Homo sapiens: one gene and its partners. The protein of the gene in region 3 interacts with the protein of the main gene of each other region in a pairwise test. Each region holds a gene or a part of one and is shown on either strand. Other genes may lie near its edges.

Region 1 (3,500 bases), on a different chromosome or scaffold from region 3:
GTGCTGGATAAGCTATCATTAAGGTTTGTCAGGTACAGTCCTATATCTTCTAAAACTAGAAATTAAAATATAAAAGTTTAGAAAAAAAAAAGAAACACAAACTTAGTAAATAATCTGACCATAAAGCCATAGCATATTAGATTCAAAATTATACTGCAATGGAAATACTGGCAAAGTTTATAAACAAGTAATTCACAAACTACTCAATCTTACCAGTTTTTTTGAAGTACAATTTATAACAAAGATGAGAATTTTGTTTAACCTACCAGTTTGTTAGAAATTAAAAACTATAAATATCAATTGTAGTTATGAAATTGAGAAACGGGTATTCTCATATACTGTTGATATAATTAAAACTGATTAAGAGCTAAAAATCCTTTCTAGAACTTAGAGCAAAGAAAAAAAAAATCCTTTCTAGAAAGCATGTTGGTGATGCATCTTTAAAGTAGACTCAGCAATTTCGCTTTTAGGCATGTATTCTAAGGAAGAGACCAGATAAGTGCACAAAGACATATATACATGAAAGGATGGTAATTAGAGAGTTGTGTATAGACTGAAAGCATTGAAAACAATCTAAATGCCCTCTATTAAGGGATTAAACAGACTACACAGCCAGAAAAGAAAAATAAGAAAAATATGGAGTTATATTAAAAGATATCCACAATATATTATTTGGTAAAAAAAAAAATTCAGGTTTCAGGCTGGGTGAGGTGGTTCAGGCCTATAATCCCAGCCCTTTGGGAGGCCAAGACGGGTGGATCACTTGAGCTCAGAAGTCTGAGACCAACCTGGGCAAAATGGTGAAACTTCATCTCTACAAAAAATATAAAAGTTAGCCGGGCGTGGTGGCACATGCCTGTAGTCCCAGTTACTCAGAAGGCTGAGGTGGGAGTATCACTTGAGCCCAGGAAGTTGAGGCTGCAGTGAACCATGATCATGCCACCTCACTCTAGCTTGCATGACAGTGAGAACCTGTCTCAAAAAAAAAAAAAAAATTCAGGTTTCAAAACAATATGCATAGTAAGATCCTATTTTTAAAGGTAAACATACATCCACATACGTATGTATTTATGTGTCTATATATGCATAGACAAAAAAGACTGGAAAGGCCTACCCCAAACCATTAATAGTGATATTATTTCTGGAGGGTGGGATTATGAGGAAGATTTTACTTTCTGAAGTTAAGACCCAGAAAAGTTAACTAAATTGCATTGAGTCCCCTATTCTTTCTACTATACCATGTTAAATCTTGAAAGTTAAGTAAAAACACTTTAAATAGAAAAGTATTACTTAGGGAATTAGCATAATCTAACAAGTAAAATCAACTAATACAAATTAACTTACTCTTGGGGGCCAATTTTTGACCACAGCTAAATAAAATCTCTCCTTCAGAGATGGGTTTATCTAAAGTTTCAGTTTCAGTGACAGTAACACTCAATGTGCTCTCCAGTGTTGATGAATCAGAACCTGGCATCTGTGAGGGGGAAGGGGCCTTGGTGCCGGCAGGAAATGGCATAAAGGGAACTGGCTCTGGAGGTGGAGGCTGAGCAGGGAAATCCATACTCTCTGGTTCTTCATCCTTAGCCACAGACATTACACTAAGAAAATAAAGACATATTTGGAGCTTGTTAGGTCACTGAAGGCCTGTATTCATTTTGATATAAAAAACAGACTCGAAGACTATGTCTCCTTTAGCAAAATATTTTTTTAAATCTGCACTACTATAATTAACAAGATTTTTAAAAGTTGTTTTCATGCTTTAATCATAGGCCATCTTGAAAGCTCTTCCATACAGAGAGATATAAAATAATATAAAAGTTAACTGATCATAGTAAATAATGATCCACAATAGGGAGAAATTGTTTTCTATTTTATTAACAATATAATAGATACCTTTATTTCTAGCTATTTCAAACCTTTTAAGAAAAAAGGTGAAGGTATAATTTGATAATTTTTCAAAACTCAACACTTATGAAAGTTCTTTCTTTCAAAGTATAAGGTAGTCTGTGGTTTATAAAGCTTTGTATAATATTTCTATGTTTTCAATGGATCACATAAGTCAAACATAAGTTGAAATGTACAGTTACTAGTGAGTATGTTCTCATTTACATAGCTCTTGGATGAAGTTCTTCTTGAGGTGAGTTAGGGTTCTCTTCTTCCAGTGGCAGGTCTCCATCACCCCATGGCTTGGGAAGCTCTGGGCTTGATACCTTCAATTTATCAATGGAAATATCTGACAAAGTTGGGGTAAAAACTGCCGCCGCTGGAGGAGGTGTAGTAGTAGGGGTAACTGTTGGAGTATTAACAAGCATGATGGCAGGCATATCATCTCCTAAAGGTTTTTTTTTAAAAGGACAGAAAAAGATAGTAGTCAGTAAAGAACTCCATAGGATGGCATGATACATTGCTTCAGATATCCCTTACCATTTTAGCACACAAATAATGGCAATTATAATTAATAATAATAATGACAATGGTGGTAGCCATTAATGTGATAATTCCTAAATTTAGTGAAGCGTTAAAAAATACCTTGAGAAGACATCATTGTTAATACCACCATATACTTAAAGTAGTCTAAGCATCTATTCAATTGTATACTTTTTTTTTTTTTGTGAGACGGAGTCTCACTCCCTTGCCCAGGGTGGAGTGCAATGGTGCGATCTCGGCTCACTGCAACCTCTGCCTCCCGGGTTCAAGCAATTCTTCTACCTCAGCCTCCTGAGTAGCTGGGATTACAGGCACGTGCCAACACACCTGGCTAATTTTTGTACTTTTAGTAGAGAGGGGTTTCACCATGTTGGTCAGGCTGGTCTCAAACTCCTGACCTCGTGATTCACCCGCCTCAGCCTCCCAAAGTGCTGGGATTACAGGCGTGAGCCACCATGCCTGCCTGGCCTCAATTATAGACTTTTAAGAAGTCGCAATCAATTCCTAAATTTCCTTGTGAGAAAAAATGATTTACTAAAACCTAGTAAGCAACAAGTACATATACAAATCATGAAATTTAATAGTTGCTAAAATTAAAACCGAGTTATAGAAATAAAGTTTCTACCTTTTTCAGCACATATTTCTTTCACAGGAAAAGCCATATCATGATCCGAATCACAGGGAGAAGAATCTGGAGTCTTTACCAAAACACACTCCTTAGCAGGTGATGAAGGTGAGCAAGGAGGCGTAGGCTGTGGGGTAGGCAGTGGGGTGCACACTCTTGCCTAAAATAAATAAAACAAGATAAACTGTGTTTATAATCACCCAAATAAAAGTAATTTGAAAATAATATGAACTCATTCATAGACTATATATAATTTAAATTGATGGCAGGGTTAAGTACCCTACCTCTTGAACCTCTACCTGTTAGTCTACGATTGGCCTGCAGCAAGTCTCAGGCAATTGAAATAACTCTGCCTCTGAAGTGGTCCCCACAGAATTCTAAGGCACCCTCTTTTAAAATAGAGAAGAAGTAATTTACGTTCCTACCAACAGTGTATAAGTGTTCTGTT
Region 2 (3,500 bases), on a different chromosome or scaffold from region 3:
GCAGTTCCTTGAGCCATGGCCAAAGCCCTCTTCTAGTCCCTTTGCCTGACTCATCTTGTTAATGTCCTATCTTCAGTTATTCTCTAGGTGCCAATGACTCCTAAATCTCTATCCCCATCTTACTTTCCTGCCTGTTCCTAACGCCACTACATATAACTATTTGCTAATTAGACATATACATCCAGGTGTACATCCAGATGTCTCAAACTCAATCTGTTGACCTGAACTGATCATCTTTTTCCTCCAACTTGCTCTCCTTCAGCACTGCTTATCTCAGTGAATGGCACAAAATCAACTGACTTGTCCATGTCAGAAACCTAAGCATCAGCCTTATCTTCTCCCTCTCTCTCCACCTCCATAGTAAATCAATCATCAAATCCTGTTCACTCTTCTTCTTTAATGCCTTTCCAATAAATCCTCCAGTCTCTTTCCCTACTGCCACTATCTGAGTTTTTACCACCATCATCTCACAACTGGTCTCCTAAACTAAAACTAAAACCCAAACATATTCTTTCTTAAATGATCTTGGTGCTTTCCACCTGGCCTCCATCCAACCCACTCTCCTCATCTGATCATGTCACTCCCCTGCTCAAGGCCCTTCAAGACCTTTCTACTGTTCTCAGGATAAAACCCCTGCTCTATATCATGACTTACAAGGCCCTTCAAGGTCTGGTGGCTGCAACTCAGCTTTCACTCTCTGGGAACAACTTGAATACCACATTGTGGGCATAAGGACCTTCTGTTTTCATTGCGTCAGTATTCTATTCAAGAACCTAAACATCTGCCCCAGGAACTAGGAGACGAGTCCTATTGCTAGTTATGTTGCTTGCTTTTCTAGTATCACTTACATCCATTTTAAAAGGTAGAAACTGTACTCCAGGATCTCTGAGGTTCTTCATGGCAGATCTAAATTGTAATGATTCTTACCTGTTTCCATGAAGACATCTCAGGAGGCTAGACACTTCAATGTATCACAATGATATCTCTCCATCCTCTGAATTCAACATGTTATCTGTACCACTCATTAATTGTGAACACATGACATCTATTATGCTATGGAAACTGATGTTACAGCTCTCTAAGTTATAGAAAATGATATAACCAAGTTTTAAATTATATGAAAATTTTAAAGACACCAAGACATACTATAGTCTTAAATTCCAATAATTCAGAAGTTCAAAGACAACATCAAAGTCCATTTCTTTCCATAAGGCTAACTCCAATATACTAGCTTTATCCTTAAGCTAGTTGACATCGCAGTTGCAAGATGGCTGTAGTTGTTCCAAATTTCACATATAAACTTGACAATATTTTCTTTAACAAATATCTCTCTTAGGAATGAAAATTCTTTTCCCATAAGTCACCCAGCAGATCTCATTGGTCAACCTTGCATTACATGCCCATGGCTAAATCAGACACAGCCCAGATGCCTGGGACCAGCCTAATCACCCTTCAGCATCACCTCAATTTTTTAGCTATGCAGAAGAGGATGGTAACTCAATAAATGGACTTCTGCTAGAAAGGAAGATGACAAGGGGCTGAAATTGGTTAAGTATGCTTCAGGGCTGAGACAATTTCCTTTCCCCATGTTTGGATTTTTTTCCAAATAAACTCCAACCTCTCTCAGCCATGTTTTAAGTTTTCTCTGATTCCACCTTGAGCCTAACACACAGCCTTACATAAAGTAGATACCTTATAAGAATATTATCAAGTATTAGTTTTATGAAATTCACTGTAGCCAGATCAATAAAGCCTCTATGGATCACCTGAAGGGGCATAGGAATCACTGTCATACACAGAGTCTATTGTCTCATGATTTGCAGTGCTAGGATTCTCCCCTGTAGGGAGCCACTCTTCTGTATGTTCTGCTGGTAAATGATTGGTCACTGAACAACTGGAAAAAAAGAACTCCACCAACCTTCCATTTCTTTCACTTGCCAATCAGAGCGGTGATCTTTCATGGTTTCTCTTGTTTTATGCTGTGCTAAATCTTTTACTAATATCCCAAGCTGAGCAGTGTTGGTAGTCAAGACTTATGGCTTTAGTGGTAGAATTTATGTGATGCCTGGACACTTTTGGCCCCAAATATTTTCCCCATTCTTCCTGAAATTCTTGACTTTATACACATTGACTGAACATGTGTCTTTATTTTGCTGAATGTCTAAAATTACATCATGAGAAGCTCATCTCTTTACATTAACAAGCTTCTACCTTTTAATATCTCCAGGGCTGTCAGCACATGAAGACAGGGAGTAGTCATCATCCACTTCGGAAGGAATTTAACTGACACAGCCGCTCACAGCCACTAACTCTTGATGTTGAAATCTACCTGTCTTGGTGATCATCCCACAAGGTGGTAAGGGGTAGGTAACACTGGAATTTTAATCTTAGGAAAGTGGGGAGGCAGTGATGATATTTAAGCAATCACTTCCAAACCAGACCATACATCAGAAATATATGAGCCATTGTAAATACTGAATCCTAAACCCCAGTCCATAAATTTAAGTCAAACAGTGGCTCAGGACCTAGTATTAAGAGAGCAAAGCTTAGCTGAGGTTGGGCAGGTATAACTGCTAAGCCATAGGGGAGCAAAGTTACTTTATCAGAGGGCGGCCTAAGTCCCATTAAGGGGCTGAGGATGAGACCAGAGAGGTGGTTTAGGGTGGGACCCAGCAAAGGTAGGTTACCTCAAGCTTTCCTTTTTGTTGCAAAAGTAAAAGTTCTCTACTTTATAATTTTGCTTGGGATTGACCCTTCTAGCATTGGATAATGGTCAGTTGCAAAGAGATGAGTGAAAAGGGGTGAAAGCAACAATGCAATGAAGGCAAAGGGAGTATTTGGAAAATATTTTCACACTAAATATGGTATGATCAGGTGTAGTCATAACAAAGAATGGTGTATATAGATGGCTTTAGAGTGTGTACATGTGTGGGCATGTGTGTGGTGTGTGTGTGTGAATGTGTATTTGTGTTCAGGAAAGCATACAGTAAAGAAAAGATTGGATAGGTAGAATGTACCTTTTTATGACATGCCAAGAAATTGGCACTTTACCCTACCTGAGATGGGGAGCCACTAACATTTGAAACAAAGCAGTAATTGGAAACATATAAGTGTCTTAGAAAGATATCATTAGTGAAAATGAAGAGAATGGGTTGGAGAGATAAGAAAAGAAAATCCAGTTTAAAAGTTACATACAGACATAAGATGAGGGACTGACTGGGTGGCAGGAGTTGCATGGATGGGAGGAGAGCCAAGAGAATTTGGAGAGTGGCTGTGAGGTTGAAAACATGGGGACAAATTCCTGGCTTTCATGTTTGTGTGATAATAATACTGCCATTAAACAATGGTAGCCAATAGAGGAGAAAATTCTGGAGGACACGTATTAAATTCAGTTTTGGAAATGTTGAATCTGGCTTACTTACAGACTGTCTAGCTGGAGAAATTTGGTGGCTGATGGAAATACTGATCTGGAACTCAGAAGGGGAGGCTGGCTGGAGATA
Region 3 (3,313 bases):
TATACTTTTTATAAGGGAAACTCTTTATAAAAAAAAAGTGAAGTTAGAAAATGAAGAGATAGAAAACTACTAGAGTAATGAAATGATCATAAAGAGAAATTAGGAGTAAAGCAGTTCAATAAGATATGGGATAGAATTAGCAACAAAGTGATCATCAATGACCTTGACAAGAACAGTTTCAGTGGCACAATGGGAGCTAAAGCCAGACTGCGTTTGTGATAAGCTGTACGTGGAAGAGGAAAAAGTGGAAAGGAAGAGGAAGGAGCTGAAAAAGCAAGTGAAGGGAACATATTTTCAGTTAGGGGAGGTGGTCTACTCATTTATTGGCCAGTTATTTATTGAGCCTGTATAAATACTGATGTGAAAAAGCCATGGGAGAAGGCGAAGTAGAAGAAACAGGTAGGGGGGGAAGATATTCCTGGGGAGGAAAGATGCTGAACATGATGAGACCCCAGGTACCAGGGGGAAACATTAGCAGCAGACAAGAAGAAAACACATTATTTTATTTTATTTCTAATTTATTAATTTGTCATTACACAAACAATACATAAATGCATATTCAAAAACATCAAACATTACAGTTAAAGCTAATGCACGCTACCAAACTACTGTTGACAGTTTGGTTAGTATCCTTCCAGACCTTCTCTCTATATAATACACAAATATGTACTTGTAGAAGTACACTATACAGTATTTGTGTGTGTGTGTGTGTGTGTGTGTGTGTGTGTGTGATGTGATTTAACATCACTAGTATCATATGTATTACAGGTATTGTCTTTCAATTTTTCCCCCAAACTTTTAACATTGTCTCCTGGAGATCCTTCCATGCCGGACATGTAGGACTCTCTCTTTTTCATTGATACTTAATACTTCATCATGTGTACCATAGTCCATCCTCTTGATGAGTATTTTGGTTTTTCCAATTTCATAGTATTACAGTAGCTCCCCCATCATGGAGGATATTTTCCAAGACCCTCACTGAATGCCTGAAACCATGAATAATACCAAACCCTCTATGTACTATGTTTTTTTATGATCTGATAATAGAAATGACTAATGGGCATTATAAAATGGGTATATAATGAGTGTATACATTGTGGATACACTGGACAAAGGGATGATTCCTGTCCCAGGCAGGATGGAGAGGGATAGTGAGAGATTTTTATTATACTATGCAGAAAGGTTTGAAGTTTAAAACTTATGTTCGTTTCTGGAATTTTCCATTTAATATTTTTGTATTGTGGTTGACCTTGGATGACTGAAACCTCAAAAAGTGAAAATGCAGATAAGGGGGTCTACTGTACAAGCAAAGGTGCAATTGACATCATTGTACAGGCTATCTTGTGAACACATGTATGTTTCTTTAGGACATTAAAAGTTGGAATTGTTAGGTCACAGGGTATGTGACTTTTAAAATTTAATGGGTGATACACAATTGTCTTTAAAAGAGGCTGTGCCAATTTGTATGCTCACTAGCAATGTATTCCTGTTTTTCCACACCCTTTCCAGCTTTTGATTTGTATGCACGCTAAATATTAGTTGGATCTGAGATGGTTTCTTGTGTTTTAATGTGCACTTCCCTTATTTTGCTGAGATTGAGCTTCTCTTTATAACCTATTTGTAAAGTTCTTTGCTTATGTGCATTTTCAAATGGACAGGGTATATAGCTTCATAGCTTCCAATTTCTAAAAGGGAGTAACCAAAAAGTAGAAGACTAACTGCTAGTCTAGCTAGAATTAATTTTTGTGAAAGATCTAACTTTATATTTCTTCTAAATTGTTATGCTATCCCATACTATTTGTTGAATAATCCATTTTTTCCTTACTAATTTGAAATGTCACTTTTATTACTTACTCAACATATTATTTGTGTTTCTGGATTCTCAGCTGTATTAGAGATTTATTTTTGGTATCAGTCACCTGAGTTATTCTTAACTTGGTTCATTAAATGGTAGCTGATTTTGTCAGCCAAGATAATAAGTGTCACTTGTTGCTTATGAGACAATAGACAATATAATTCATGACACATGAATCCTATTCTAGTTAACTTTGATTTAAATCAATTTCATTATCTACAACTTAGAGTATTAAAAATGTGTAAACTTTTCTCAGATTAGTTCCTCTTTTTTAGGGAATACTTCATAGGCTCGATGTCGAGGTGGAAGGCTTTTCCCCTCCTTCTAAAAGTATTATTTGATGTTAAAGCTTTCTGGTGATTTAAAGTTGTTTCCTGGCAATATCAAAGGATTTTTACATGGGATGGCAATATTACTGTTGATTTATAAAAACCTTTCATTTAACAAATGATATAAGGTTCACAAACTATAACATATACTCTGAATAAACAATATGGCACTTTAACTTTTACACTTACACTGGACTGAGCTCATTGGAGCACACAAATCATGTCCCATTCATCTTTCTATCCCCAAACATCCAGTACAGGTTGCAGCACCTAAATTGAAATAGAATTAAATTGCATGTCAACATTTTTTTTATAAAATAAAAAAAAGAAACCTAAATTTCTTGAAAACATCACTTTTAGGGTTTTACAAAGTCATACATGTTTCTTTTTATTAGCCACTGACCTGTTATTATTTCCATCTCAAGTGTGGGGAAAATGTTCCCTTGCTGTCTCTGATCTTCCTCAGGTATGATATGACCTATCTATAGATACATTGCATGCCTGTGAAATGACAGCAAGAACTGTGATCCGGATAACATTTGGATTGCAGCAGGCAAGAGTATTTTACAGTTGTTATATGGAAATATTGTAGGCATGCAAAAGAATGGAGAGATGAACTTAACTTTTTTATGGAGAAGTTGAACTGTGGCATTTGCCTTGTTTTAAAATTCAGTTGTTTTTATGATCTAAGTTAGCACACCTTTCCCTTCCCTCCAAGGGGATAAATATGGCTTCTGTGGACAATGTTGTAGTCTGTAAACTTAAATACTATGGACCCATGACAGTAGACAATGGGAAAATTCCCCAAACTGCCTAGTCTATCAGTTTCCCTGCTGAGAATGAAAAATAAAGCTAACTCACTCACCATCCAGGTATGCTGAACAAATTCAACAACTAAATGGACTGCGCCAGTGCAAAATACCAGCGTCTTACTTTGCCATCACCAATCTGAAAATCTGTCTTATTTTTCTTATTTGATGATTCCATGGCGGGGTTCGGGGGGGTGGTGGGCAAGCAAGAATGTCTGTGAACTTTAACTTGCTTCAGAGTGCCTCACTTAGCATTTTCATCTATGAACACAGCATGTCATACCAATTGTACTCCACAAAAGATATAGTTACAGTAGCAC
Region 4 (3,500 bases), about 92 Mb from region 3:
CAGCTCTTTTTTTTTTTTTTTTTTTTTTTTGAGAAGGAGTCTCACTTTGTTGCCCAGGCTGGAGTGCAGCGGTGCAATTTCAGCTCACTGCAACCTCCACCTCCCAGGTTTACGCAATTCTTGTGCCTCAGCCTCCTGAGTAGGTGGGATTACAGGTGCCCGCCACCACGCCCTGCTTATTTTTGTATTTTTAGAAGAGATAGGGTTTTGCCATGTTAGCCAGGCTGGTCTCGAACTCCTGACCTCAGGTGATCTGCCTGCCTCGGCCCCCCAAAGTGCTGGGATTATAGGAGTAAGCCACCGCGCCCGGCCCAATAAAGCTCTTTTTAAGTGATCATGTCTGAACTCTACAGTAATGAGGCTTTACCACATTCCCATGTGACCCGACGTTGATGTGACTACACAAGAAGAACCTGTTAACTAAAGCCAAGAAGGCGGAGTCGACAGCTCCGTGACTCGTTAGGAAGGATGGGAGATGCAGTGTAGAAAGACAACCCCCTCTCCAGAGCTCGCAACACAAGCTCCATCTGAAGACGATTTAGATTTCCCTTCTCTGTAGAATTTGTGCAATTCCACAGGACATGCCAACTTCTGGGCAGAGGAGCCTCAAAATTTTCACTCACAGTGGCTTCCCTCTGGAAGGATTCTTTATAGAAAGAACTTGGAACACATTTCAGACAGACTGTGTGACCTGTTGACTGGCTAATCGGGGCCCAAGAAGAACAATTCACCACCAAAGGGCTAGATGTGGCCCAGCGAGTTCTGCAGCACAGCCCTCGTTCTAATTTCAGGAATGAAAGAGAAATACTAGAAGGATGCCGCTGGGCTGCCACCTCTTAAATACTTCCAGACCCTGGCATCGGCAGGGCCAGTTCTTTCACTGACATGATTCTATTTGACAGATAGTTAATCTAAAAATCTAAAAGCATATCTACGTTTCCCCCATGTGACACAATAAAGCTATTTTTATTTGGAAGAGGAAAAAGGTAGCAAGGTAAACATTTGTTTTTCTTGGATGAGACTCTGTGAAAATAAACATAGAAGAACATAATGAAATGAAGTGAAATGAAAAGGTCAGCACAGCCGACTTGGATACTGTGTTCTGGGCCATGCCTAAACTTGGTTCCCAAAGGCACCCACTGCCCTGAAGGCTGGAGCCAAGGCTTCCCCACCCTACTAGTCCCCGACGCCCACCTGGGATTTTCAGGTTCAGGTCACAAATGCTCCCGACAGTGGCCACGGACGGGGCCCGACTGGTGCGGGTGATGCTCTCTTTGACTCTTCCCTCCCCACTGATCTTCACGGTAAATGGGCTCCCTGCAAGACCCAAGAAGGCTCCTGTGAGCAGGCCAGAGGCCAAGGCACAGCATTTACAGAAAACCCAAGCATCCCACCTGGAGGGGAATGGAATGCACATACCAGGCACGTGCTCGTCAGCGAATTTGGTGGAGACGATATAAACCCCAGGCACGGTAGGGAAGTAGGAGACTTTGCAGGTGCCATCTTCCAGGTCCTCCGTCTGGATGTCCACTTTGCTGGGGCCTTCCACCGCCAAGGATATGCCACCATAACCTGCAACACAGCAGCCCCAGGCTGTTCTGACAGCAGCTCCTCAGGAAGAGGGAGCCTGATGAATGGAGAAAGGACATCCGACCCTTACGCCTCAATCTATTTCTACATAGCAGAAAGAAAGCAATGGCGGCCTCGTTTGCAAAGCCCAGAGGGGGATGAGTAGGTTAAGCGTCCTGAGAAGCCCCATAGTGAAATAACCTGCTGAACCTGGTTTTGACCACAGAAGCCTTTCCTTAAGGATATTTACTAATATCCCATAGATGATGTGTCCCGTACAAACTGCTGGGGAGGACCTTCTGCCCTCACGCCTCCAAGTACTGCACGTACCACCTTGGGGGTTTATCCACAGCCAGATCTGAGATTTTGAATTTTTAAATAGCCCCTGGCTACCTCAGCTAGGTCAGCATATCCGAAGGTTTAACAGGGAGTATCTCCCAACCAGGACCAGAAATTCTCCAGCCCTCTCCCCGGGTTAGAATTTGTCTAGAATTCACCAGCGTGGCCATCCTTCAAGAAAGCAGATGACTGGAGGCACTGGGGTGTGGCAAGCTTGGAAGAGACACAATCTAACTCAAACCATCTCAAAGAGAAAACAGAAAGAGATGCTTCATTTCCACAAAAGCTCTGCTCAGATGACCATGGTCTTGGCCAATCAACCCAACATTCTTTGCTTGGAGAGACGCTGGGAAGCTGAGAACAAGGGTGGGAGAGCAGATAAGAAAACAGGGGTTTGCGAGGTGTTGTGGCTCTGGGTTCAGATCCTAGTGCAGAGGGGGCTCTAAACCTTGCAAGCCTCAGTTTCATCATCTAAAAAACAAAGACAATCCCATTTTTGCCAATGGTCATGAGGCATAAAAGACAATGCAGGCAGAAGGACCTATAGCTTGAAGGATGCTCAGAAAGGAAAAGGAGTTGGTAGGATGAAAAGATGACGCTGCCTCAGCAAAATAAGTCGGTTCCCACAAGCTCTGGGCCTCTCCCCTGGGACCACACAGACCTGCATCCCTTGTGTCCACGATGAAGTCAGACATCTCGAAAGTCCGGCCTTCTGACAGGCCGCGGCCATAGACTTTGGCTCGGCGGGCGTCACCAATCTCCGACTGGACCACCATGATAGACACGGGGCTGTTGGCCACATGGTTGCCATTTTTCTTGATGCTGACCAGATGTTCGCCCACTTCCCGGGGGATGAAGGAGATGCCTGGACCAGAACACAGATTGGGGCTTGTAAGGGGATGGCGGAGAGGAAGCAGGAGAGAGACACACTCTCAGAAATAGAAATATGTCCTCTTTCCTGACACCCAACAATCCAGAGTGTCGATATCACAATGCACAAATACGCTTGGGCATTTATCGTGCGTGTGACCCAGCAGGTTTATCACATCACACTCCATTGTGCTACCCATTCCCAAGAAAGGACTGCAAGAGTCCCCATCTCCCACCCAAGATGTCCTGGCTCCAGCCAGGAAGGGTAGCCTAGCTCACCAATGTGGTTGTTGGGCAGCCTCTTCAGGAGACAGGGCTCGTCTCGGCCAGATGGGGCCTTAATGCTGGCCGTCAGGCTGCTGAGGTCAGTCTCACTGATGTCGAGCAGGAAGTCAGCGGCTGAGCCCAACTTCACCTGGGAGCACCGCCTGCTGTCATCTGGGAAACATCCCCCAAAAAGGACTCCCGTTACATGTGGTTACCCTGGCTTCACAGAGCTGCCATGCCATATGCTGTTCACGGATGAACACGCAAGAACTAATTACACAAAGTTAAGTGAAAAAAAAATGAGCCTTGAACACTGAGTAGACCCAACCAATGAAGAATGATGGGATTCATGCCTGCTTGCAGCAAAGACAAGAAGCTGGCAGGACCTAGAGACTTGAGTCCTCATGGACCACATTTTAAAGGAATCTTTGGGCCAGGTGCCTAATCCCAACACT
Region 5 (4,117 bases), on a different chromosome or scaffold from region 3:
GCTCTGGAGTGAGCACACCTGGGTTCAAGTTCTAACTCCACAAATAGTATGAAGTTGAGCAATTCATGTCCATTTCCCCTCCTGAGCCTCAATTTCCTCCTCTGTCGGGCCGGGATTATTCATGGGAGAATGACGGAAACAATTCTATACTGCTTCTGGCATAGCACAGGAAGCAGTTTGAAGCCGCTGCGCCGAGGCTAACATGTACCGAAAGCTCGAAGGAGGCAGCATTCACTACCAGCTAGAGGATCTGGGAGTTTTTCAAGGAGGTGGCCGGTGGGAGACACAGAGAGCCAGTCTCAGTGGGAGGCAGCCTTTCCGCATGCGCGCGCTCTAGAAGCCTGGCGGCGGCGAGGGGGCGGGACCAGGTCTCTGAAGGGGTTGCTATGGCACCAAGGGGCCGAGGAGGTTCACCGAACCCTTAAAACCATTGCTCCCTCCCCCACCTGCCACCATCAGGGCCGAGGGCCATTGTTCCCGGCAAAATGGCGTCGGAAATCCCCCTCCCGGTCAGAGGCCTAAGTAAAACTGAGGGTGGGAGTCGGACCATAGGTGGGAAGAAAAACTACAATTCCCAGGGTACATCGCACCCGTCTGCGAGGCGCAGGGCACGTGCCCAGGCCTAGCGGTTACATGCCGTCAAAAATCAGTTTCATAGCTTCCCTTTCCCATCCCTGCTTTGGTCGTTTCCCAGCCCCCGCGCGCGCGCACTGCGGTCCTGGGGGGCGGGGGAGACATGCCGTGGCTGTTGCCCCCGCAACGTAACTGGGAGGCCAGTATTTGTAAATCGGTGCTTCGACTTCTAATCCCAAAGCCGGCAGGTATGGGTCTCGCGAGAAATCCCGGGAGTTGGAAAAAGGGAGTCAGGGGTGGCGGGCGAAAAGGTGCCGGCGGGTACCACCTCCTAACAGCGGCGCTACAGCATTCAGAGGCTCGCGGAGACCCAAGGGTGGGCAGTGGGGGGCTAGGAAGTAGTGTGTGCTTGGACTTTTCTTCTTCTTCTTCTTCTCTGAGGGGAGAGGGTAGAGCAGCTGAGAGAGAGCGAGAGCGCTTCGGAACACACAGGAGATGTCGCGCGTGCTTCCTCTAAGAGATTTTCTCTTTGGAATGGGGAGAAGCCTTTCTCCTCGACGCGCATCCCTCTCTCCCGCGGCGCCGAGGGGGGCGGGAGGCGTGCGCGCACTCTAGTTGGCTGGCCACTCGGCACCTCGCTGCGATAGGGGCGGTTCCGAGTTGGGGCTGCTCCGTTGGCTTTCTCCGCCCCTCCCCCTCTTCTGTTCTCCCCTCCCTTCCCCGCCCCCCCTCCGCCCCTCTCTCCTACCCGTCCGAATTCCCTGGCTGGAGTACGCGTGCGTCTGCTCAGCTCCGGGCCGAGCGCGAGCTTGGGCTCGTACCCCGCTCCCCTCTCTCCGCCCGCTCTTTACCTACCGGCCGTAGCTGGCCCGGTGGGCTCGCGGGGAGACGCTCGCGCGCGCAAGCGCACACGACGCGGAGCGGAGCTCGAGACATCGAGGAGAGGAGTAAGAAGCATCGGAGGAGGCGATCGAGGAGGAGGCGGTGTGTGTGTATGTGTCTATTCTACGGTGTGGCTCGTCGTGGGGCGAGAGGAGGCTCGAGAGAGGGCGAGGGAGAAGCGAAAAGAGTAAGAGAGTCTTCCTTTGCGAGAGCCTCTAATCTGGTGAGGGTCCCGGGCCGGCCGGGGCGCTAGGAGAGAGGGAGGAGGCCGGGGGGCGTGTCTGGGATCGGGCTGAGAGATGAATGGGCCAGGGATGAATGGAGGGAGGCAGCGGCGGCCAAGAGTCTGTTAGGAGTAAGCGCCCTAGCGGGGGGCGGCTTGACCGAAGCAGGGTGAGTGCCTTCACCAGTCGGTACCGGACGAGGCCGGGCTCCGGGCTAAGGGGCTGTCGAAACTGCTGAATAGGCGGAGAGGAAAATGAACAGGGGGAAAGTGGGGAAGGGCAGGTTTGAGGCTGAGGTGCGTTTTTTGTTTTGTTTTCTTTTTTGTTTTTGATTTTTTTTTTGGTTGTTGTTGAGGGGTGACAACTTTGGGAGCTGATGGAAGACCAGGGGACGGGGAAGGTGAGGAGGATACAGGAGGGGGACAGGAGACGGTTGACAAAGGACTGAGTGATCACTTAAGTGAGATTGAAGCTACTGAAAGGGAAGATCGCTTCGGGTGTGGGAAGTTCAGTTGTATTGATGGGAATAGGATGAAGGAAAGAGTAGATTTATTTCAGAGGTTCAGCTGATGTGTGAGGGACAGGATGGGGTGAGAAATATTGCTGGCTTGTGTAAATGTGTTAGGCTCAAGGAGATTCTGAGGTGTTATTTGGGAAGGGGTGGTGTGTGTTGTGTGACTGACAGGTTGGGGATGGGGAGGAGATGGTATGATAGGTGAGGATGAAAGTGGTGAGGTGGCTTCACTGTACTGAAAGAGGTTTTGTTTGACTAGTTAAAAGTGGTGAAACATTTATATAATGGGGTGGGGGTGGAAATCCTGCACGTGAGTATCTCCGTATCTTGGGGGTTGAGAGACTGTTAAAATGAGACTGAACCCTCAAAACAGATGCGAATAGTATGGCTATTTTTTCTTAAGAGTTACTGTTGATTGAGACAATTATATGAATAAAACAGCTTTTGAGTTGTGAAAATCTTCTGCATAGTAGTGATTGTATCCAATTTTTGGAGATACCGTTATCTGTTTTTCATCTATAGTAAGTTGTAATACCAAGAGAACTTTTGAAGAGGTCTTAGTATGTGACAGAGCAGCGGGTGTCTTTTAAGACGGTCTCTATCCTTTGGATTGATGAGTTTAAAAATTGTTTAAACTCGACAGCTCAAGGGAAAGATACCTTGCATTAAAGGATAGCAAAAATGCACTAAAGCTTAGCCGGGCGTGGTGGAGCGTGCCTGTAATCCCAGCTACTTGGGAGGCTGAGGCAGAAGAATCTCTTGAACCTGGGAGGCAGAGGTTGCAGCTAGCCAAGATTGTGCCACTGCACTCTAGCCTGGGCGACAGAGCGAGACTCTGTCTTAAAAAATCCACTAAAGCTGACTTTGAACTAAAATAATTGTACATTTTTTTTGGTCATTACGAATTTATCTTTGAAAATTGGCACTCGCTTTTTGGTGTGAGTTTAAATTACAACAGATTACGTGAACATTTTGTTCTCTGAATACTTATCTTCTGATAAGGATGTCTTGTCCTGGTCTCATTCTGTTCTGGGTCAAGATTAACGGTTATGGATTTTAATCTTTTGTGATTATTTTTTACACATTTTACTGATATATATTTAGTTTTCTTGGAAATGTTGCAAACTTGAGAACATTCCCATGCTGTTTTTCTTTTATTCTGCTTTGATATTGGAAAGAGTGTAATCCTTGTTTAGGCTACCCGCAGTTTGAATACAAAAGGTCATATTCTGTTCATAGTCTCTCAGATTGAGATGAATACTTAATGTATTAAATAGTACAGTAGAAGTATAAAGGCACTGTAAGAGCCTGGAAATGTTGCACTAACTCAACCAGGCAAGGCGGCCTCCCAGTTTTGAACTAGATGTTTCTAGATGAAGGACATTCACATTTTGGGTCTTGAAAGTGTAAGCATGGTATATTTGGAGAATGGAATGAGATAAGGCTGGAATCTTAGGTTGAGGCTGGGGTGAATTAGGAACTCTTGATTGTTTAAGAAGGGGAATAACATAAACAGATTTATGGTGTTTCTCTCTCTGCCTTTGCTTCTGATGTCCCCCTCTACCTGGAATGCTCTCTCTCCCCCTCCCCTAGAATTTGAACTCATTCTTTTAAAACTTAACATTTGTCACCAGCTATTCCTGAAAGCCTTTCCTGGTTTCCCTTTCTTCCTTTTCCCAGCATCCTCCACCAAGCTAGGTTAGGTCCCCCTCTTTAGAGTTCTATCATACCTTGTACATAATTTTATTACGGTACTTTGGTTGGGAGGCAGGTAGGAAAGGTATTTTTCTCCTTCTATCTGAAAAAGAAATGAAGCCCAGAAAAACAAGACATGCCCTAGTAAGTGGTGAACCCCGGAGTTCTGACTTCTAGACCATTGTTGATCTTCATATCACAAGTTTACATTTGCTTAAATAATTATAGT
Region 6 (3,500 bases), on a different chromosome or scaffold from region 3:
CTAGGAAAACTAAAGTGAAAATATGAATTCAGCTAAGCAAAATCCTCAGCAAATCCTTTTCACTATCTCCTGGATCCTGTTTCTAGAATAAAGGTAAATGAAAGTATTCAAACAGCATTCTATATGACTTATTACAAAAACAATTTCTAAAGTAGCTAGTGAGTGGTCATTCATCTCAAACTTCAGAGTATCCAATTCTCCCAAAATATACCAAAAGATCTTTAAAATCAGAAAATCCAAACAAGTGGAATACTGTATTCCACTGATGTTCTCGTCAACTAAGGTTTTAAATTAGGATAAAAAAAAATTAAGAGAGGACAGTCTACTTGGAAACTTCACTATTTTTATCTTTTTTAAATGAAATACTTCTCAAAAAATATTGGCGGGAGTGATGAACAGCAGGTACACTGCAGACCCCTCCATAAAGTGCCATTATAACAGTATTTCAGGGAGAAATCACAATTACGGCTGGCTTAGTGACTAATCTTTCAACAAAGCCCACATCAAGCCAGAACAACCCTTTACTTACATATGCACACATAAAACTAAACCTACAAAGGTTCTTTTTTTTTTTTTTTTTTTTTTTTTTTGAGACAGAGCCTCACTGTGTCACTCAGGCTGGAGTGCGGTGGCACGATCTTGGCTCATGCAAGCTCTGCCTCTTGGGTTCAAGTGATTCTCCTGCCTCAGCCTCCCGAGTAGCTGGGACTATGAGGCATGCACCACCACACCCGGCTAATTTTTGTATTTTTAGTAGAGATGGGGGCAAGTGCCTGTAATCCCAGCACTTTGAGAGGCTGAGGTGGGTGGATCACCTGAGGTCAGGAGTTTGAAACCAGCCTGGCCAACATGGTGAAACCTCATCTCTACCAAAAATACAAAAAATTAGCTGGGCGTGGTAGCGGGTGCCTGTACCCCCAGCTACTCGGGAGGCTGAAGAAGGAGAATTGCTTGAACCCAGGAGGCGGAAGTTGCAGTGAGCCGATACAACGCCATTGCACTCCAGCCTGGGCAACAGGGCAAAAACTGTCTCAAAAAAAAAAAACCCCACACAAAAATCTATGGTTTTGACATTTTGATGCCTCTTGCCTGTTTCAAAGGCATCTTGATGTGCCTGTGGTTTCACTCCCTTCTAGGTCATCATACAGCAGATGCAGAGTATGTTTCTGATTAAAAAGGAACTTAAAGGTACAAAATTTATGTATTCATATTCCTCACAGTCATATCTACTTCTAGGAAACAAGAACAGGGAAGACATGTATATTAGCCCCTGGTTAATCAGGGGTACCTTGGAAAAGTACAGTAAGAATCTAAGAAAATTATTCTAAAATGAAGGAGGTCAAAATGGAGGAAGTCAAGAATTTTTGTTTCTCTTTTCCTTGTATTACAAAGCAGCTAAAGACCTACATATAAAGTCCCTATACACCAGCAATAACCCTTTTGAGAGCAAGCCTCAAAAATGAGAGATACATTACACAAAGTCAGAATTTACAATGTTACTATATACTTACCCCTCTCATATCTGATATATTTAGTTTCATTGTATGAAACATGTTTAGCATCGCCTTTCCAATTATTTTTGCATTATCTGTTGCCTGGTCAAGAGTTACAGTCCTGTAAGTGATAGAATTAAAAAACAAAAGCTTCATTCCATATGTATTCACTAGTACTAAAGTAGTATGGAACTGTTTAAAAGAGTTATAGAAAAGTTGTAAACAGTTACAAAGAAGATTATAAAAGTGAATGCCATAGTCTCCCTTCAAGGAAGCCAGAAATACCAAATTAGTTACACTGGCAACCAAGGGGGAAAGAAAAATTATGGAACACTAGAACTTTAAGGTAAAAACCGTAATGGACACTTAGGTCAACTAAAAATAAGTTGAGAAATTTAGAAAAAGGTAGATTTTAGCTAACATATGCACAAATAAATACATATTTTCCAGCTAAAGCACAAGTGAATGGTAAACACAATGTTCTTGATTCCAAGAGAAGTTTTAGGTTCCAAGATTATGTATGCTGAGGTATAGCAAATATTCAGAAGAGAAAGATAAATTCTCTGTATGTTGTTTCTTGACTCTCCTTTCATTGTGTTTACAGTACAGCCAATAAACAATTCTTAGATCTTTAAGAACTCTTGAAGGAGGACCAAATGGTCCATCAGCATTATTAGGTCTCAAAGATGTGCTGACCTCACCCACCATTTCCTTCAGAGCCTTTTGAGCTTCTCTGGCATGAGCGGGCTGTCCCATTGCAAACAGAATTACTAACTCAGTAACAGATTAACAAATTACTACCAGTTCTCTTTCCAAAGGAAAGTTATTTCGTGTTTTGGATGATCCTTTCCATGTATAATGAACAAATGAAGTTCCAGGCCATTAAACAAGAAATATTCCCAGAAAAAATTATTATAAATTGAATTGGATTTTCCCATAGAAATGTTTAAGAAGATAATCACATTACTTCATCTGCTTATAGAAATAACCACTAAAAGCTGAGCACAGTGGCTCACACCTGTAATCCCAAAACGCTGGGAGGTCAAGGCAAAAGGATTGTTCAAGGCCAGCCTGGGCAACAGAGCGAGATCCTGTCTCTACATAAATAAGTTTTTAAAGTAAATAAATAAATGACCACTATTTACTATTTGAGATACATGTGTATCATAACAGGTAGGTAAATATAATTCAAGATAACCAACTGATAAAAAATGTATTTTATAAATTATGTTCTCTAATTGTAATTTATAATTCCTGCTTTCATGGTAACTTGGGAGTTTCTCTGTTTAAGAGCAGTCGTCTCACGACTTAGCAATATCATCATATACATGAATGCACCATGTATGGTTGGCATGAGCTAATCTTTAATGAAACTATACTTCATATTGTAAGTAGCTTTCAGTGTCAAAAGTCTCAAAATTTTGGTTTCACAGATGAAATACAGTGCAATATAAAATGACATGTAAAACCACACATCTTCATATTGGTCACGAATCTTACATGAAGTTTAATATTAAGTAGTTGGCCCTGACATAAAAGACGAGTGTTTCAGACCGGGCACATTGGCTCATGCCTGTAATCCCAACACTATGGGAGGCTGCGGTGGGCGGATCATTTGAAGTCAGGAGTTCAAGATCAGCCTTGCCAACATAGTGAAACCCTATCTCTACTGAAAATACAAAAATTCGCTGGGCATGGTGGCATGCCCCATAATCCCAGCTACCCAACAGGCTGAGACAGGAGGATTGCTTGAACCCAGGAGGTAGAAGTTGCAATGAGCCGAGATCGCACCACTGCCCTCAGGCCTGGGTGACAGAGCCAGACTCTGTCTCAAAACAAACAACCCCCCCCCCCCCCAAAAAAAACAGCGTTTTTAAATGCTTTTACCAGTTTTCAGACATTACAGTGATTCATTCATCTTTTTACCAATTAAATGTATACACCTATGTAAATGAAGTTGCTCTCCTTCACCATCATTTTTCTAGCTACTATAGTCTGCCTTTGTGT
Region 7 (3,500 bases), on a different chromosome or scaffold from region 3:
TATATTTTTACCCTTCTTTAAGGAAACTGAGTCTTAAGAAGGTTTGGTAACTTGCCCAAGGTGGTACAGCTACTAAGTGGTGGCCTCAGAATTTCGATCAAGTCAGCTGACACCAGAGCCTGCACTCTGAACAACTAGACTGCTTGGGGCTGGACAGTTTGAAATCTTTGCCCACAGATGTCTCTTAGCTGTTACTTGTTTAACTGAAGTACTTTTTCAAACTGTCCTTAGCCTATGGGATAAGGTCCACTCATGAGGACAAGATATGCACACACAAAGCACTAACTCAGATGGCTCAACAACAAAATCCAGCCTCCACGATGAGGAGAGGCACCAGAGTCGGGGGGTGGGGGTGGGGGGCAGCAGATGAATCAAGAATTGCCAAAGATTGATAATTATTGAAACTAGGTGATGGGTACAAGTGGGCTCATCTTACGCGTCTCTGCAATGACAGGGTCACTCCAGTAGAGGGAATGACTGTCTAGCCAAAAAATGCCAAGAACACTCCCCCAAGAAACCATGAAAGCTAAAAGGATTGCTGAGACAGACTTTCAACGACATGGGTAAAGCAAGAGTTAATATGGGCGTGGCTACATCTTATCCCAGGCCTTTAAGGTTACTCTAGGGCCAATAACAAAATAGAGGCTTTGAACACGAAAGGTGCTCACCTGATATTGTGTGTTCATGTAAAAGACATTCATTGCATCCCCAGCCTACCAGCTTTGTCAAGAATAGCCATGTTGGGTCAGAGTTAAAAACAAAATAAGGCCCAGATTTTTAATGTTCACAATTCTTTCAGATACCTCTTAAGAAATAAATTAGTTTTTAATTGATGTGTATGATGTTTTAAATTTTCAAACCTATCGAAAAATGTTTTTACAAGTGCATTTCTTGAAGTTATATGAGTATTACCATTATAAAATGTGAAAGGTAGAAAACATAATAAAATTGAAAATAAAATTATTCTTTATCAAAAAGCTATGTACTAAAATGGCATTTTTCACAGGATGATCTAATGACTTATCAAAACAATAAGGAAAATATGTTATCCTTCGGACCCAAACATTCTGTAAATATCATTCTGAAAAGAGATTACATGCATTTATTCATTTCTCAGGAATGATTCTACATTCCTTGAAACTGTAACACTTCCGTAATCAAGTAAAAAATTTTTCTATTTATCAGCTTTACCTGCTATTTGTACTGAACCATCCTCACCCAGAAGAATATTACCAGCTTTCAAATCCCTATTAGAAAAAAAAATAGAAAATAAATTGTAGGGTACAGACTTTATAGTGTATTGATTCACTCAGGAAGATTTTAAAACATATCATACAACGCAGCTCTTTGACATAATAATTTCATAAATATTAAGATAATAGCACAGATTTTAAAAGTTATAAGGATAGGCTGGGCACAGTGGCTCACGCCTGTAATCCCAGCACTTTGGGAGGCCAAGGTGGGTGGAGCACCTGAGGTCAGGAGTTCGAGACCAGCCTGGAAAAAATGGTGAAACCCCATCTCTACTAAAAATATAAAAATTAGTTGGGCATGGTGGCAGGTGCCTGTAATCCCAGCTACTTGGGAGGCTGAGGCAGAAGAATCACTTGAACCTGGGAGGTGGAGGCTGCAGTGAGCCAACACCGTGCCACTGCACTCCAGCCTGGGCAACAAGAGTGAAACTTGGTCTCAAAAAAAAAAAAAAAAAAAAAAAAAAGGTATAAGGATCCACCTGTCACTTTATAGTTTACTCGTGGGGGAGAGTTAGGATTTTAGAAAGAAATATTTTCTATGAAATAATTATCCAAATTTAATTAAATCATCAGTAAATAGACTCTCTATTTTATGCTTCAGAGTTAGACACTGCCCATAAACTCACACTACTGTCATTCTACCAAGTATTAAAGCCCAGTCTATGTAAAGCTCCTCTACTTCCACTTAAATTTGGGATGCAATTCCAACTTAATTATCTTTCTGAAAAATGAACTTCTCTCTGGTGAGAGACTGATTATAAATACTAATTATAATAATAGATATTATATTTCTTCACCGTATAAAACCTGTGTAATCTTAGTACTTTGAAAAATGACAACTTGCAATTTATAAATTTGATTTCTAAAGTAACTTTTTTCTAATTATTGAAAAATATAGGCCAGCCACAGTGGCTCACGCCTGTAATCCTAGCACTTTGGGAGGCTAAGGTGGGCAGATCATCTGGGATCAAGAGTGTCAGTCCAGCCTGGCCAACATGGTGAACCCCATCTCTACTAAAAATACAAAAATTAGCCAGGCATGGTGCCGCATGCCTGTAATCCCAGCTACTCGGGAGGCTGAGACAGGAGAATTGCTTGAACTCGGGAGGCAGAGGTTGCAGTGAGCTGAGATCACACCATTGCACTCCAGCCTGGGCAACAGAGCAAGACTCTGTCTCAAAAAAAAAAAGAAAAAGAAAAATATAGTAGAAATAATTAAATATAAATTTCAGGGTAGGAGAATTACATTATTAGTATTACTGGTAAATGGCTATTTACTTGCAATAATTCCTAAGAGCCCAAGTAGCACTCACTCACTTGAAACATCAAGCACTCATATTCTATGTGATTTGACTATGTAAAGAATTAACATTTTATGTCACAAAAGAAGATGAGTACCTCTTCCTTCCCTCTCACCACCACATCAAAAATAATTCACATAGTACAATGTTTGGATAGTCTTGCTTGTATTAGAAAGATAGAGATGCTGTCTAGTTCAACTAGTATAATTCAAGAGTAGTTACCAAAACTGATCTTTTTAAATGAGTCCATGTAGTCCTTTTTAGATTCCACTCTTATTTCAGTGAAAGCAACTGAAGCAATCCCAAGGATACCAATATAATTCATCAAAATTTATTCTCTTGTTTCTTTCTTAAGTACTTTTTTCCCATCTATTTAGACTAAGTTAAAGTAATGTCAATACCTGCCTGCAACATGTGTTTCCTTAACATTCTTTACAAACTAGGGCTGAAGATATGAACATCTGAATTTAAACATCTCTGCAGAGGTCACACCTGTGAATCTGACCGTTTCTGTGTAGACAGTCTAAGCCTTCCAAAACCTCTTTAAGATATGAACATCTGAATTTAAACATCTCTGCAGAGGTCATACCTGTGAATCTGACCGTTTCTGTGTAGATAGTCTAAGCCTTCCAAAACCTCTTTAAGAATTGTTGCTATTATTGCCTCTTCCAGAACTCCATTCTTGTGTTCTCCTCGGTTGACAATGTATTTTATGATATCCAACATTGAACCTAAGTAGACAAACAGAAGAATTAAAACATAAGCACCTTCATCACCTTTTCAGAACAAGACTCCATTATGTATAAAATTTAATAGAAACATCAAAATATGGGCTTTATTTAATGCAAATATTCCCAAGGCAAACAAACAATTGAATGGGGGCCCCATGACCAAAAACACTAAATCCAAGTTTGCAAGAGCACTTTCAGTGTGAATTTAACGAGAA

What was found.
Region 1: the proteins of TSC22D2 (region 3) and KIAA0586 interact in a two-hybrid assay, tested with the Homo sapiens proteins (one study listed by BioGRID).
Region 2: the proteins of TSC22D2 (region 3) and ITGA2 interact in a two-hybrid assay, tested with the Homo sapiens proteins (one study listed by BioGRID).
Region 4: the proteins of TSC22D2 (region 3) and FLNB interact in a two-hybrid assay, tested with the Homo sapiens proteins (one study listed by BioGRID).
Region 5: the proteins of TSC22D2 (region 3) and WNK3 interact in a two-hybrid assay, tested with the Homo sapiens proteins (one study listed by BioGRID).
Region 6: the proteins of TSC22D2 (region 3) and REV1 interact in a two-hybrid assay, tested with the Homo sapiens proteins (one study listed by BioGRID).
Region 7: the proteins of TSC22D2 (region 3) and STK39 interact in a two-hybrid assay, tested with the Homo sapiens proteins (one study listed by BioGRID).

Annotation. Positions count from the first base shown.
Region 1 is NC_000014.9:58,486,719-58,490,218, reverse strand, and holds part of KIAA0586 (protein TALPID3), read right to left. Parts: intron 3,213-3,500; coding exon 3,053-3,212; intron 2,333-3,052; coding exon 2,110-2,332; intron 1,599-2,109; coding exon 1,345-1,598; intron 56-1,344; coding exon 1-55. UniProt on the Homo sapiens protein: Required for ciliogenesis and sonic hedgehog/SHH signaling. Required for the centrosomal recruitment of RAB8A and for the targeting of centriole satellite proteins to centrosomes such as of PCM1.
Region 2 is NC_000005.10:52,992,352-52,995,851, reverse strand, and holds part of ITGA2 (integrin alpha-2 precursor), read right to left. Parts: intron 1-3,500. UniProt on the Homo sapiens protein: Integrin alpha-2/beta-1 is a receptor for laminin, collagen, collagen C-propeptides, fibronectin and E-cadherin. It recognizes the proline-hydroxylated sequence G-F-P-G-E-R in collagen.
Region 3 is NC_000003.12:150,463,610-150,466,922, reverse strand, and holds the end of TSC22D2 (TSC22 domain family protein 2), read right to left. Parts: 3' UTR 501-3,313; downstream 1-500. UniProt on the Homo sapiens protein: Reduces the level of nuclear PKM isoform M2 which results in repression of cyclin CCND1 transcription and reduced cell growth.
Region 4 is NC_000003.12:58,147,922-58,151,421, reverse strand, and holds part of FLNB (filamin-B), read right to left. Parts: intron 3,217-3,500; coding exon 3,058-3,216; intron 2,774-3,057; coding exon 2,570-2,773; intron 1,573-2,569; coding exon 1,420-1,572; intron 1,318-1,419; coding exon 1,195-1,317; intron 1-1,194. UniProt on the Homo sapiens protein: Connects cell membrane constituents to the actin cytoskeleton. May promote orthogonal branching of actin filaments and links actin filaments to membrane glycoproteins. Anchors various transmembrane proteins to the actin cytoskeleton.
Region 5 is NC_000023.11:54,355,247-54,359,363, reverse strand, and holds the start of WNK3 (serine/threonine-protein kinase WNK3), read left to right. Parts: upstream 1-1,317; 5' UTR 1,318-1,678; intron 1,679-4,117.
Region 6 is NC_000002.12:99,406,518-99,410,017, forward strand, and holds part of REV1 (DNA repair protein REV1), read right to left. Parts: intron 1,615-3,500; coding exon 1,512-1,614; intron 1-1,511. UniProt on the Homo sapiens protein: Deoxycytidyl transferase involved in DNA repair. Transfers a dCMP residue from dCTP to the 3'-end of a DNA primer in a template-dependent reaction.
Region 7 is NC_000002.12:168,160,596-168,164,095, forward strand, and holds part of STK39 (STE20/SPS1-related proline-alanine-rich protein kinase), read right to left. Parts: intron 3,286-3,500; coding exon 3,144-3,285; intron 3,138-3,143; exon of another isoform or gene 3,127-3,137; coding exon of another isoform or gene 3,047-3,126; intron 1,248-3,046; coding exon 1,192-1,247; intron 1-1,191. UniProt on the Homo sapiens protein: Effector serine/threonine-protein kinase component of the WNK-SPAK/OSR1 kinase cascade, which is involved in various processes, such as ion transport, response to hypertonic stress and blood pressure.